Regions from separate parts of the Homo sapiens genome. Here regions 1, 2 and 3 are each reported to be linked to region 4. The links are microRNA targets in miRTarBase. Many come from high-throughput screens and were not tested one by one. Region 4 holds a microRNA gene; each other region holds the end of a gene's coding sequence. Distances are between the middles of the regions.
Evidence for each region. The annotated mature microRNA hsa-miR-4793-3p reads UCUGCACUGUGAGUUGGCUGGCU and lies in region 4 at 1,325-1,347, opposite strand. An mRNA with a match to its seed (bases 2 to 7 or 8) in the 3' UTR can be bound and repressed. Matches are read on the target gene's strand: a 7mer-m8 pairs with bases 2 to 8, a 7mer-A1 pairs with bases 2 to 7 and ends in A, and an 8mer does both.

Region 1: miRTarBase lists BTLA as a target of hsa-miR-4793-3p. The part of its 3' UTR that is shown has no 7-base or 8-base seed match.
Region 2: miRTarBase lists CDCP1 as a target of hsa-miR-4793-3p. Seed matches in the 3' UTR shown: 7mer-m8 at 782-788.
Region 3: miRTarBase lists PCLAF as a target of hsa-miR-4793-3p. Seed matches in the 3' UTR shown: 7mer-m8 at 1,782-1,788.

Annotation. Positions count from the first base shown.
Region 1 is chr3:112,463,475-112,466,474 of GRCh38, reverse strand. BTLA (B and T lymphocyte associated) reads left to right here. Exons shown (of 5, transcript NM_181780.4): 5 at 92-2,509. The coding sequence ends at 367. Among named protein-coding and RNA genes, the nearest start is that of BTLA, 34 kb to the left of the region's middle. RefSeq lists enhancers at 1-383, 2,821-2,960.
Region 2 is chr3:45,083,089-45,086,088 of GRCh38, forward strand. It overlaps CDCP1 (CUB domain containing protein 1), which reads right to left. Exons shown (of 9, transcript NM_022842.5): 9 at 1-2,979. The coding sequence ends at 2,550. Among named protein-coding and RNA genes, the nearest start is that of CLEC3B, 58 kb to the left of the region's middle.
Region 3 is chr15:64,363,191-64,366,190 of GRCh38, forward strand. PCLAF (PCNA clamp associated factor) reads right to left here. Exons shown (of 4, transcript NM_014736.6): 4 at 1,114-2,885. The coding sequence ends at 2,840. Among named protein-coding and RNA genes, the nearest start is that of CSNK1G1, 8.5 kb to the left of the region's middle.
Region 4 is chr3:48,642,877-48,646,028 of GRCh38, forward strand. MIR4793 (microRNA 4793) reads right to left here and starts at 1,404; the gene lies at 1,318-1,404. CELSR3 (cadherin EGF LAG seven-pass G-type receptor 3) reads right to left here. Exons shown (of 35, transcript NM_001407.3): 23 at 2,866-2,992; 24 at 2,567-2,773; 25 at 2,159-2,333; 26 at 1,840-1,952; 27 at 1,340-1,419; 28 at 678-801; 29 at 91-207; 30 at 1-8.

The DNA.
Region 1 (3,000 bases), 64 Mb from region 4:
TCCATTTAAGCTTTTCATTCATAGTTTGCTAATGAATATGCACTACCATGGCCGTAAGTGTCACTTAAAACCATCTTTTTTTCTATTGTAGGTTGATGCTCACCTTAAGAGTGAGCAAACAGAAGCAAGCACCAGGCAAAATTCCCAAGTACTGCTATCAGAAACTGGAATTTATGATAATGACCCTGACCTTTGTTTCAGGATGCAGGAAGGGTCTGAAGTTTATTCTAATCCATGCCTGGAAGAAAACAAACCAGGCATTGTTTATGCTTCCCTGAACCATTCTGTCATTGGACCGAACTCAAGACTGGCAAGAAATGTAAAAGAAGCACCAACAGAATATGCATCCATATGTGTGAGGAGTTAAGTCTGTTTCTGACTCCAACAGGGACCATTGAATGATCAGCATGTTGACATCATTGTCTGGGCTCAACAGGATGTCAAATAATATTTCTCAATTTGAGAATTTTTACTTTAGAAATGTTCATGTTAGTGCTTGGGTCTTAAGGGTCCATAGGATAAATGATTAAAATTTCTCTCAGAAACTTATTTGGGAGCTTTTTATATTATAGCCTTGAATAACAAAATCTCTCCAAAACTGGTTGACATCATGAGTAGCAGAATAGTAGAACGTTTAAACTTAGCTACATTTTACCCAATATACAAACTCGATCTTGCCTTTGAAGCTATTGGAAAGACTTGTAGGGAAAAGAGGTTTGTGTTACCTGCATCAGTTCACTACACACTCTTGAAAACAAAATGTCCCAATTTGACTAACCAACCATAAATACAGTAATGATTGTATATTTCAAGTCAGTCTTCCAAAATAAGAAATTTTTGCTGTGTCAGTCTAAGAATGGTGTTTCTTAAATGCAAAGGAGAAATCATTTTAGGCTTGATGTAAGAAAATGAAAATAATAAATGGTGCAATAAAAATATAGAATATACCAATTGGATATAGGGTAGATGTTCCACATACCTGGCAAACAAATGCTTATATCTACTCTGTTAGATTGATAAGCAAATATAGGTATTAATGGAGCAGTCAACGTATAGCACATTTATGAGGAAAGTAGAGACTCACTGGGTCACATAGACTAATGGATAGGAATGTGACATAATGCTGCTGAATTAATATACTTATGGGCATCTGAATAGTTTAAAAGTTAGTCAGAATAGGTATCACTGGGCAAGTGAAGATAGCTTAAACTGCTTCATGCTTGACTTGATAGCAAGTTAAAGTGCAATTAATGGAATGGAGGAAAACCCAGAATATTTAATTGGTCTGTAGGGGTCAATTTGCTTTCATTCACCACATCTGCATCTTGCTGTTCTTCTTACTAAGGAATCAGGGCAAATCATCTGTAGTGACATATTTTAGTTTGCTAATCATTTATTTTAAAATACTGAGGTTGCAGCCACTTAAGAGTATAGCAAAAGATGGATTCAGATTTTTGGACTTTCCAAAGTACTTGAGTTAAACTATTTCAAAAATAGCCTATAATTTTATTCAACAGTTTGAGGCTATTCGAATTCTCAGGTGCTGCTACTGAATAATGTAATAGTCTTCATACAAAGTGGATAGCAAAGGTTAAAATCCATTTCAACAAATATGTGAGCTGAGCTGCTGCACAAAGGAATGTGATGTGTGTGTGTGTGTGTGTGTGTGTGTGTGTTAGGTGGGGTGGGTGACAACAGAAATGGTGCACGAGAAACTGATCAAATTGACATTATATTTTCAGTTTGCTTATGAAGCTCAAAATACTAGAGTAAATGGGTCATTAAAGAAAATAATATGTGAAATTATGGAGTTTAGAATACAAGTGGGGTATATATACAAAAAGACAAAACTGAGGTTTTGTGGTGGAGAGATTTTCTTAAGTAACACTGGCATTAAGTTTTAGCTCCTTAGATTTGGGGGTGCAAATATTCTTTTGAGTCACTGTTATTTTGCCAATTACACCTAGAATTTCAAGCAACCAATTCGAGATAGGCTGTTTTAGCCAGGCTGCATTTGTGGACAACTTATGTAAGAAAGACATGTTAGAATAGCTGCTTGTGGTATTCTTAAAAATAGAAACAGGAAATATGGGGAGGATACATTTAGCTGTCCTCTTATCAGATGAACACACGAAATTGAACAGTTCCTTCATGATTCTCTCAAACTTAAAAGCAAAATATTTCTGTCTTATTTAAAATATCCTTAGTATGTCTTATAGTAAAGATAATGCTGATAATGATTTCATCTCTAAGATGTATTAATATATTTGTACTGTTTGCCAAAATCACAAATCATTTATGTTTTTATTCCTTTTCAAAATGGTGTCAGAGACATACATGCATTTTCCCAAATGACTCTACTTCACTATTATTTACATGGCTTATTTCATTAGTTTATAGAGGGTTTGAGAAAAAGAATATGTAGATAATTTAATGGTTTTTCACAAATTTTAAGCTTGTGATTGTGCTCAATGAGAAGGTAAAGTTATTAAAACTTATTTGAAATCAATTTGGCATCTGATTTTGTACCCCAAAATGTGTGGACATGAATAGAATACTGATTCTTAAACCCCCTGACACATAAAAGCGACCCGAATAACTTGCTAAACTGCAGACTATTAACTTGCAGCACTAAGAAATTCTGATTCAGGAGGTCTAGAAAATGGCTCTTTAATCATCATCTTTAAAAGACATGCCAACCAATTTTAATATGTTTCCCAGTGTCCACAATTTGAGAAAACTAGTAGAGGCTAGGTTTGGTATATGTGGTTTATTTGATCAGTTTTGTGCACCAACCAAAACTATCTAGTCCCCAGAATGAATTCTCTGGCGCGATCATATCTATTTTGCTAAATATATAAACTTTTTTCAGAGCACTTTTAGGTTCAGCAAAGCTAAGCGGTGAGCATTGAGAGTTTCTATACCGTCTTCCCCCACACATGCACAGTTTCTCCCATCATCAACATCCTGTACTTCAGTGGTGCCTTTGTTACAATCAGT
Region 2 (3,000 bases), 3.6 Mb from region 4:
TGCAGGGCACCTAGTCCTGCTTGGAAGGGGCTGGGAGGTTGGGGAATGTCGAGAATGGAGGGCTAGGGCTCCACACAGTGAATTCAAATAAGGGCTCTTCAGTGAGGGAAGGAAGCCGCAGCCCTCCTTTGGCCCTTTATGCAGGGTCAGCATCTCGGCTCACAAGGCCAAGGGTCACTGGGCAGGAACCAGACTTTCAGAAGGGAAAGGTGCCATAGGCAACGCCAAGGGCATGACTTAAATATCCTATCCTCTGGAAAGTGTTCAAGAGGTCTTGCAGTACACGCCATTTAGGAGACTATAAAATTCCTTTCATTTATGCCATGTGAACAAGTTGAGGCGGTGCATTTCCAAGGTGAATTCATTGAATACAATGAAGTACATTTATTTTTTGAAGGAAGTTTTTGCCGCAGAAATATTGAACTTGGGACTGTGCTGACAAGCTATAACATAATCCCTCTCCTTCCAGATCAGAGCAGGGGTGAGGAAGCAAAAGTCCACAGTTACTGGGCAGGTAATTGGTATAAATGAGGGTGTGGGGCTGGATGCGGTGGCTCACATCTGTAATCCCAGCACTTTGGGAGGCCGAGGCAGGAGGATTGCTTGAGCCCAGGAGGTTGAGACCAGCCTGGGCAACATGGTGAAACCCTGTCTCTACAAAAAATACAAAATTAGCTGGGCATGGTGGTTTGTGCCAGTGATCCCAGCTATTTGGGAGGCTGAGGTGGGAGAATTGCTTGAGCCCAGGAGGCAGAGGTTGCAGTGAGCCGAGATTGCGCCACTGCACTCCAGCCTAGGCAACAGAATGAGATCCTGTCTCACATTAAAAAAAAAAAGAAAAAGAAAAAGAAAAAAAAGAAAAAGGGTAATGTGAGCACACATTGGTCTCATGGTCTACTCACCTGATTAGAGATTAATCCCAGTCTTTCTTTTTCATTACAATAAATGCAACCTGCAGGGGCATTGATCAGTAGAAACAAACACTCAGCCTCATTGTGGGAAGTGATAGGGCGTAGTGTGGGCTGTGGTGACCTGGTGAAGTGGACACCCCTTCTAAAGGCAGAGCTGGTGCCCAGCTCCAGCCAGTTGTTGCTAGGTGAGAATGTGAGCCCCAGCATGGCCAGATCTTCTGATCTGGGTTTTTTTTTAAGTGTTAGAGTCCGCAAGCTAAACAAAACATCCCTGTGCGCCAGATCATTTTGTAGCCTCTCCTGTGGGAGTCAGTGGCAGGAAGGTGTGGTAGGCAGAATAACAGCACCCCAAAGATGTTCTGGTCCTAATCCCCACCTGTGGCTATGTTGTCTTGCATGGCAAAAGGCTCTTCCAGGATGATGAAGGAACTTTAGATGGAGAGATTATCCTGGATCTTCCTGGTGGGCTTTGTAAGTCAAAGAGGGAAGTGGGAGGGCCAGTGTCACAGTGATGCCATGTGAGAAAAGCTTGACCAGCCACTGGAGCCTGGGAATGCAGCCAGCCTCTAGAAGCTTGAAATGGCAAGGAACCGGCTTCTCCCTAGAGCCTTCAGAAGGAGCACAGCTCTGCTGACACCTTGATTTTCATTCAGGGACATCCATTTTGGAATTCTGATCCCCAGGACTATAAGCTAATGTGTTGTTTTTAAGCTACCAAGTAATAGGTTGCAGTGGCAACAGAAAACTAATGCAGGGGGCCACTGTTTGGTATATATTTAAACATTTTTAGAGGATGAGAATATTCTCTAAATTTCTCTTTAAATGTCAAAGTATTGCTGCAGCTAGGAGAACCGCACATGGAAACTTGAGGAAATTTCTCTTATTGCTAGGACTATAGGACAATGGGATTCAAGATGAATTTCCACAATGGGATAACCACGAACCGACCTAGAGAATCAGGAAGTCTCTTATCAAAGCAGATATGTGTCAATGCTGCTCAAACACACACATTCTTTTCTGGTTGGACAGATTGTAAATTATTCCCACCACCTGGGGGACAGGCACACGTTTATCTAGCGGTCAGTAGAAGTCACAACCCAGGCATCCAAACCAGTTAGTATGAGTTATTACTAAGTCAGGTGAAAAGAGCTAGGTGGTTATACATTTGATCTCTTAAATAACACAGGACCACCAAATAAATAATAATAAAAAGGCACATTGTCGTTTTCATCCTGGGGACCCCAGTGAGAGTAGGGACCTCAGGTAGGCTCCTTGGAATTGGAACTGTTGTCCTGAAGAGGGCAAGCCTCTGTTTAACACTCTGAATCCAGGGCTTGCTGCAACCCTATGCTAGGTGACTCAGGCCTCTCTCCTCTCATTACAGGCTGGCTAACCGCACAGCCTAAGTTGAGGAGCACATGAGCTGTCATGACTGTATCCAGATTGGAATTCATCATTTTCAATGTCTTGCCCTTAGAATGAGTCCACTGAGCAATGTGAAGTTGGCGGTGTCCAGGAAAACCTCCTGCTGTTCCTTCTGTATAATTCCTCTTCTTTAGGATTTCTGGTTAGGAACACGGACGGGTGTCTCAGTGCCCTGCTTTATGAAACTCAGCAAAGCGTCTGGAATGGATCAAGTTATTCTGCTGGCTCCATGGGCTCCTGAGTGTTCAGTAAGGGAATGTCTGTGTCCTTGCTGCTTACATCCCCATTGTTGGGATGGGAGAAGGTGTACGGTTCACTCTCAGACTCAGGAGGGGAGCGAGGAGGTGGCTCCTCAGTGGCCAACTTTGCAGTTGGGGCCCTGGAGCATATGGTGGGTGGGGAGGGAGGACAGACCCCCATGGTGCCCTGGAACGGCCGGTAGGTGTCCACCTCTGGCTGCAGGAAGGAGCCGCTGGAATCCTGTAGCAGATGCCCATATACCATGGTGTCCTCGATGACTGCATACACATGGGAGTCATTGTCCTTTCGCCCTTTCTGAAACTTTTTTGGCTGCCTCGGCATCTCAGTATTGATGTTGTCATTGTAGATACCCACAGCGGGGCCCTTGTTTGTCTTCTTTTTCCTATTTGGAAAAATGGAACAA
Region 3 (3,000 bases), not on the chromosome of region 4:
ATGATCTGCCCGCCTTGGCCTCCCAAAGTGCTAGGATTACAGGCGTGAGCCACCATGCCCAGTCTTTTTTTGCACTTTTAGTAGAGTCAGGGTTTCACCATGTTGGCCAGGCTGGTCTCGAACTCCTGACCTCAGGTGATTCACCTGCCTCGGCCTCCCAAAGTGCTGGGATTATAGGCGTGAGCCACTGCTCCCAGACTGAAGTTGAATGTAGGCATGTAATTGTTTCTAAAAAATTTGAATCTTGGCCGGCTGCAGTGACTCACACCTGTAATCCCAGCATTTTGGGAGGCCGACGCGGGCAGATCACGAGGTCAGGAGATCAAGATCATCCTGGCTAACAGGGTGAAACCCCATCTCTACTAAAAATACAAAAACAATTAGCAGGGCATGGTGGCAGGCACCTGTAGTCCCAGCTACTAGGGAGGCTGAGGCAGGAGAATGGTGTGAACCTGGGAGGTGGAGCTTGCAGTGAGCCAAGATTGCGCCACTGCACTCCAGCCTGGGCAACAGAGTGAGACTGTCTCAAAAAAAAAAAAAAAAAAAAAAATTCCCAGCACTTTGGGAGGCCCAGTCAGGCGGATCACCTGAGGTCAGGAGTTGGGAGTTGGAGACCAACCTGGTCAACATGGTGAAACCCTGCCTCTACTAAAAATGCAAAAATTAGCTGGGCGTGGTGGCGAGCACCTGTAGTCCCAGCTACTCCGGAGTCTGAGTTAGGAGAATCGCTTGAACCTGGGAGGCAGAAGTTGTTGTGAGCCAAGGTCAAGCCACTGCACTCTGGCCTGGGTGACAGAGCGAGACTCCATCTAAAAAAGAAAAGAAAAGAAAAATAGCAAATGAAGTGTCAGATCCATTAAAACTTGACTTCAAGATATTTTGTTTAAACTACTCCTTAAAAATAAACCTAATTATCAAATAAGTACTTGAACTCAGCTCCCAATTCAATAACATACTGTTTAATAATATCCACCTCTAAAAGACAAAGCAAAAAATATAATCTACAATCATTCGGACTCAAACAGTTTGGAAGGTGTTAAAATCAGGTCAATGCTCTGATTTGTATTTGGAAAGAATAAAATAGGACATAATTTTAGGAAGCACACAAATGGATAGTGTATTGTAAAAATAAGTATGCATTTATTACAAACGTATTTCAGAAAAATATGCCTACTAAAATATGATTACTTTTGACAACAGGCTGCTGCAAAAAGGGTGATGAGGAATATTATACCCACTTCTTCAATTATACCTCTGGTTATGTTGAAAAATGTCATAGTAGCTCTTAGGAGTTTTGCCATGCCTATGGGTTTATGGCATGATTTGCCTTTCATGTTATATTGACTTCCAACTTTAAAATTATATTTTATGATAGCGAATCAAATGCAAATCCTAGGAAAATTTCTTTTAAGAGATGGGATCTGGTTCCACTGTGTGTGCCACCATGCCAGGCTAATTTTTTATTGTTCATATATAAATATATATTTTTTTCTTTTCTTTCTTTTTTTTTTTTTAAGACATTGTCTCACTCTGTTGTTCAGGCTGGAGTGCAGTGGCACAATCTGGGCTCACTGCAACCTCCACCTCCCAGGTTCAAGCGATTCTCCTGCCTCAGCCTCCTGAGTAGCTGGGATTACAGGCATGTGCCACCATGCCTGGCTCATTTTTTCATTTTTAGTAGTGACAGTTTCACCATGCTGGCCAGGCTGGTCTTGAACTCCTATCTCAGGTGATCCACCTGCCTTGGCCTCCCAAAGTGCTGGGATTACAGGTGTGAGCCACTGCACTCAGCCTTTTTTAAAATTTTTTTTTTTTTTTTTTTTGAGACGGAGTCTCGCTCTGTCGCCCAAGCCGGACTGCCGACTGCAGTGGCGCAATCTCGGCTCACTGCAAGCTCCACTTCCCGGGTTCACGCCATTCTCCTGCCTCAGCCTCCCGAGTAGCTGGGACTACAGGCGCCCGCCACCGCGCCCGGCTAATTTTTTGTATTTTTAGTAGAGACGGGGTTTCACCTTGTTAGGCAGGATGGTCTCGATCTCCTGACCTCATGATCCACCCGCCTCGGCCTCCCAGAGTGCTGGGATTACAGGCGTGAGCCACCGCACCCGGCTAAAAATTGTTTTAGAGATAGGGTTTACGCTATGTTGCCTGGGCTGGTCTCCAACTCCTGGACTCAAGCAAACCTCCCTCCTCAGCCTCCTGAGAAGCCACTGTGCCCACCATGATTCTATCCTAGTATTTTATCTTTTTTCTTGTTGTTGTAGAGGCATTATCAACCGTTTAAACCCTCAAGACCAAATTATCTTTACATTTTTTTAAAGAGAAGATATCCATCCAAGGTTTTCCAACATTGCGTATTTGTCCTCCTTGCCAAAAAAGAGGGTAGAATAAGTAATGTTTAATTAATACTGAATTTTTTAATGTGCAAAAATCTAACTCTGCTTTTTAAAGCAAGTAGAAGGAGTGACAATATGGCACCATTCCAATAATCAAACACCAATAAAAATGGCAGCAGTACAACAATCTAAGCAAATCTCAAATACAACATACTTGTAATTAGAACACAATGCAATGACTTGATTTTAGCAAGAACTAGACACTTAATTTGGTAAAAGAAACCAAACAATGCATTATATTGAATACTAAGCTAAGTTACCATAATTAGTCTTACAAATTCTCAAATTTCACAACTACTTTTGAACATCTAAATTTAAACCTAAATTTTTTAATTAAATGCCTGTTCAACAAAGCTAATTGGAACAAACACATTTATGTAAATTTACATTCTAGAATACCAGGGTAAACAAGGAGACGTTATTCAAAGATGAATGAGAAAGTTCTATTCTTTTTCATCATTTGTGTGATCAGGTTGCAAAGGACATGCTCTGTGAAAAGAAGAGAGAACATCAATAGCCATCCAAGTATCAACTGTTTGAAAAAAATAGTTACAAACCTATATAAATCAGGAACATTAATTAACAGTGCAGTAGATCTGGTCTA
Region 4 (3,152 bases):
CCAGGTCCCTGGGGGTGGTAGGGACAGAGTGTGAGCTAACCCTGAAGCAGCCTAAAACTCTGGCTTCTCAGGGCCCCCATCCCGACTCACCAGCCCAGGTGCTGGCCTTGCCTCCTCAGGCGCTGCCTTCCTGCCCAGACAGGCTGGCATCCAGGCAGCCCGAGCATCTGCATTTAGGACACAGAAGAGCAGCAGCACCGCCAGGCCCTGTGGGTCAGCGAGGGTCAAAGCAGAGTCGGCAGGGATCAATCAGGGACCAGTATAAGTCACTGTGGGTCAGCAATGGGGTCAGTCACTGTAGGCTAGTGTGGGTCAGTGAGGAGCCCATGCGGGACTCAGTAAGGGAGTTGGGGAAGGTCAGCAGGGGAGAGGATGGAGCAGCAGGAGTGGCTGGAGTCTGTAAGGTCGGTGTGGATCAGCAAGGGGTCGGGAGCCTTGGTGTTGGTGAAGGTCGATCCAAGATCAGCACTCAGTCTGGGATCAGTGCCTAAGTTAGAGTCAGCTCCAGGCCTGGGGGCAGCAGCTAGGGCCAGTGTCTGGTCTGGGGTAGTACCCAGCCTGGCAAAGTTATCCAGTAAGAGTCAGCTCCAGGCCTAGGGTCAACGTCTGCCTAGGGATGGCCCCAGCCTACTGAAGGCCCACCTGGTTCTGGGGCAAGGGAGGGGCACCAGAGTCACCTGGAGGCCGCAGAGTCCAGCATGGAGGTAGTGGAAGGCTAGGATGCTGTGGTTGACTGCCAGGAGCCCAAAGAGCCAGGAGGCACTGACCAGCAGAAGCAGCAGGAAGGAGCTGCGAAGGGTCCTGCTGTGGGGACATGGGAAGACACAGGAGGACATGCAAGGCTCATGTAGGACTCATGCAGGGAACACGGGAGGACACACAGGGGCCACACACGAAACGTGAAAAAAAGGAACTCACACGGGAACATGGAGGTCTCTGGAGGACACTGGGGGAGATGGGAGGTCCCACAAAGAAACAGGAGAGCAGTCAAAGAGCCATGAGGACACGTGGGGAAAACACAGGGGTATGGGAGCCACAAGGGAGGGCACGGAAGACAGGTGGGAACACACAGGGCAGGGGGCAAAGTGAGCCACCCAGGCCATGGGAGACTCTGGGGGGACCCAGAGGACAAGGAGAGACAGCAGGGCAGAAGCACATGTGGGGCTACAGTATAGCGAGGGCGCCAGAGAGGGACCACAGGTCAGGGCAGGTGTGACTTCATTCCTTCATCTAGAACTTGGAGCCCAACCTGCACCAGGGAAGATCTGGGGGCCCCAGACCCCACCCAGGAGGGACCTGCCATCCTGAGAAGCCCCCTTCCTCCAGCCAGCCAACTCACAGTGCAGAGGTCTTCTTGGCCTCCCTCTGCCCTGTGGAGCAGGATGTGCGGGCAGCGAGGAGAAACATGGTCCCGTTCATCTGGACCCACGGCCAGACATGTGGGGCCGGGCAGGGCAGAGAGAGAGAGAGAGAGAGAGGCAATGAGAGACAGAGAGAGACTAAGATTCACGGAGAGAGGCAGAACCAGTGAGAAATTCACACATATACACACACACCAAAGGAGCTTAGCATCACAGAAAAAGAAATTGGGAACCAGAGAGGGACTGAGAGAGAGAAGCAGAGACAGAGGCAGGGACAGGCAACTGAATCTCTGACCCCGCGCCCCCATCTCCATGCCAGTTGAATGGGGGTGGCTACTGACCAGAGGACAGAAAAAATGAAGGCCGAGCCCAGGAAGCCTGCAGAATGCCACCTGACCGCCCTCAGCTGAGTCCACTGCACCTCCTCCCCCAATGAGGGAGGGAAGTACAGAGGGGGCACCAAGTCCAGGGCACTCACCACTATGACCAGGACAACAGGGCCAGCAAAGCTCCAGATGAGGGGCTCGTGGACTGAGATCCAGCAGAAGTCAGGGTTCCCATAGCCCTCAGGGTCCAGGCCCACAGCAAGGCCTTGGGAAGAGAAAGGGTAGGACTGAGGGTGTGTGTTCCAGAGCTGCTGACCAGCCCATGTATGGGAGAAAGCATGGGTGAGGGCAGAGCAGCAACCCCATGAATAGATGGCTTGGGGTTTGAGGTTGGGGGTCATGAGCAGGAGTGGGGACAGGGTCAGGGGTCAGGCCATGTGATGGTTGGAGGTTGGGGGTCACAGCCCTCACCCAGCAGCACAGCAGGGACGCCCCAGCCCAGGGCATGGTAGAAGCGCATGGCGCCGCGGTCCACGTTGCGTGGCTCAACCTGCATGCGGTAGAGGTGCAGCCCCTGCACGAAGAGCCACGCGAAGGTGCTGAGGAAGAAGTAGTGCAGGAGGATGGCGACTGCAGTGCACACCAGCTGAGGGCAGGGGGGCGTGTCAGGACCTCTCCTGCCTCACCCACCTCTGACCCCTACCCCAGGCATCTGCTTCCCACCTCTCACCCCTAAACCACAATATCTTACCCCAGCATCCTGCTGAAAACCCTGGCCCCAACCTGAGCATCCCTGACCTCTGACCCTGAGTTTTGGCCCCAGGCCTCCTGGGCCAGTAGGGTCATCAGGACACAAGTTCCCTGGCCCTGATCCTGCACCTGATTGTGGGTCCTGTGAATCCCCAGCAGGAAGAGGAGCTCTGCCACCCCCAGGGCGGCTGCCACATTGGCATGGATCCCACGCACATTGGACTTGAGGCTGCGCAGGCTCAGCAGGATGGCTGCAGTCAGCACCAGCGCAGCCACAGACACAGCCACGACCACGTGGGTGAACACAGCCAGCAGCTCCAGGTCGCCCTCCAGCCTCTACAGAGACAGGGATGGTTGATGGGTTGTTGGGCAGAATCCCCGTGTCCCTTTGACCCCCCACTTCCTTGGGACACTGAACACAGCCCCACCTCACGGGGAGAGGCATCCATGAGGACCCCAAAGGTCCCTGTCCGGCTGCAGCGACACCGTGCGTGGGACCCATTCCTGTGCACCAGCTCGCAGTCCCGTGCTGTCCACACACCATGCTGCTCCGCCCTGCAGCCACAGGGCAGTTAGACACAACTGTGACCCAGTGTCAGGCAGGGGTTTGTGAGAGATCATGGGAAGGGCTGAGGGTGCCTGGAGTTGGGGTACAGCATTCCTCATGGTCCGGGTTGCACAACAGCACTAGTGGGGGCCCCAGGGGAAGGCTGGG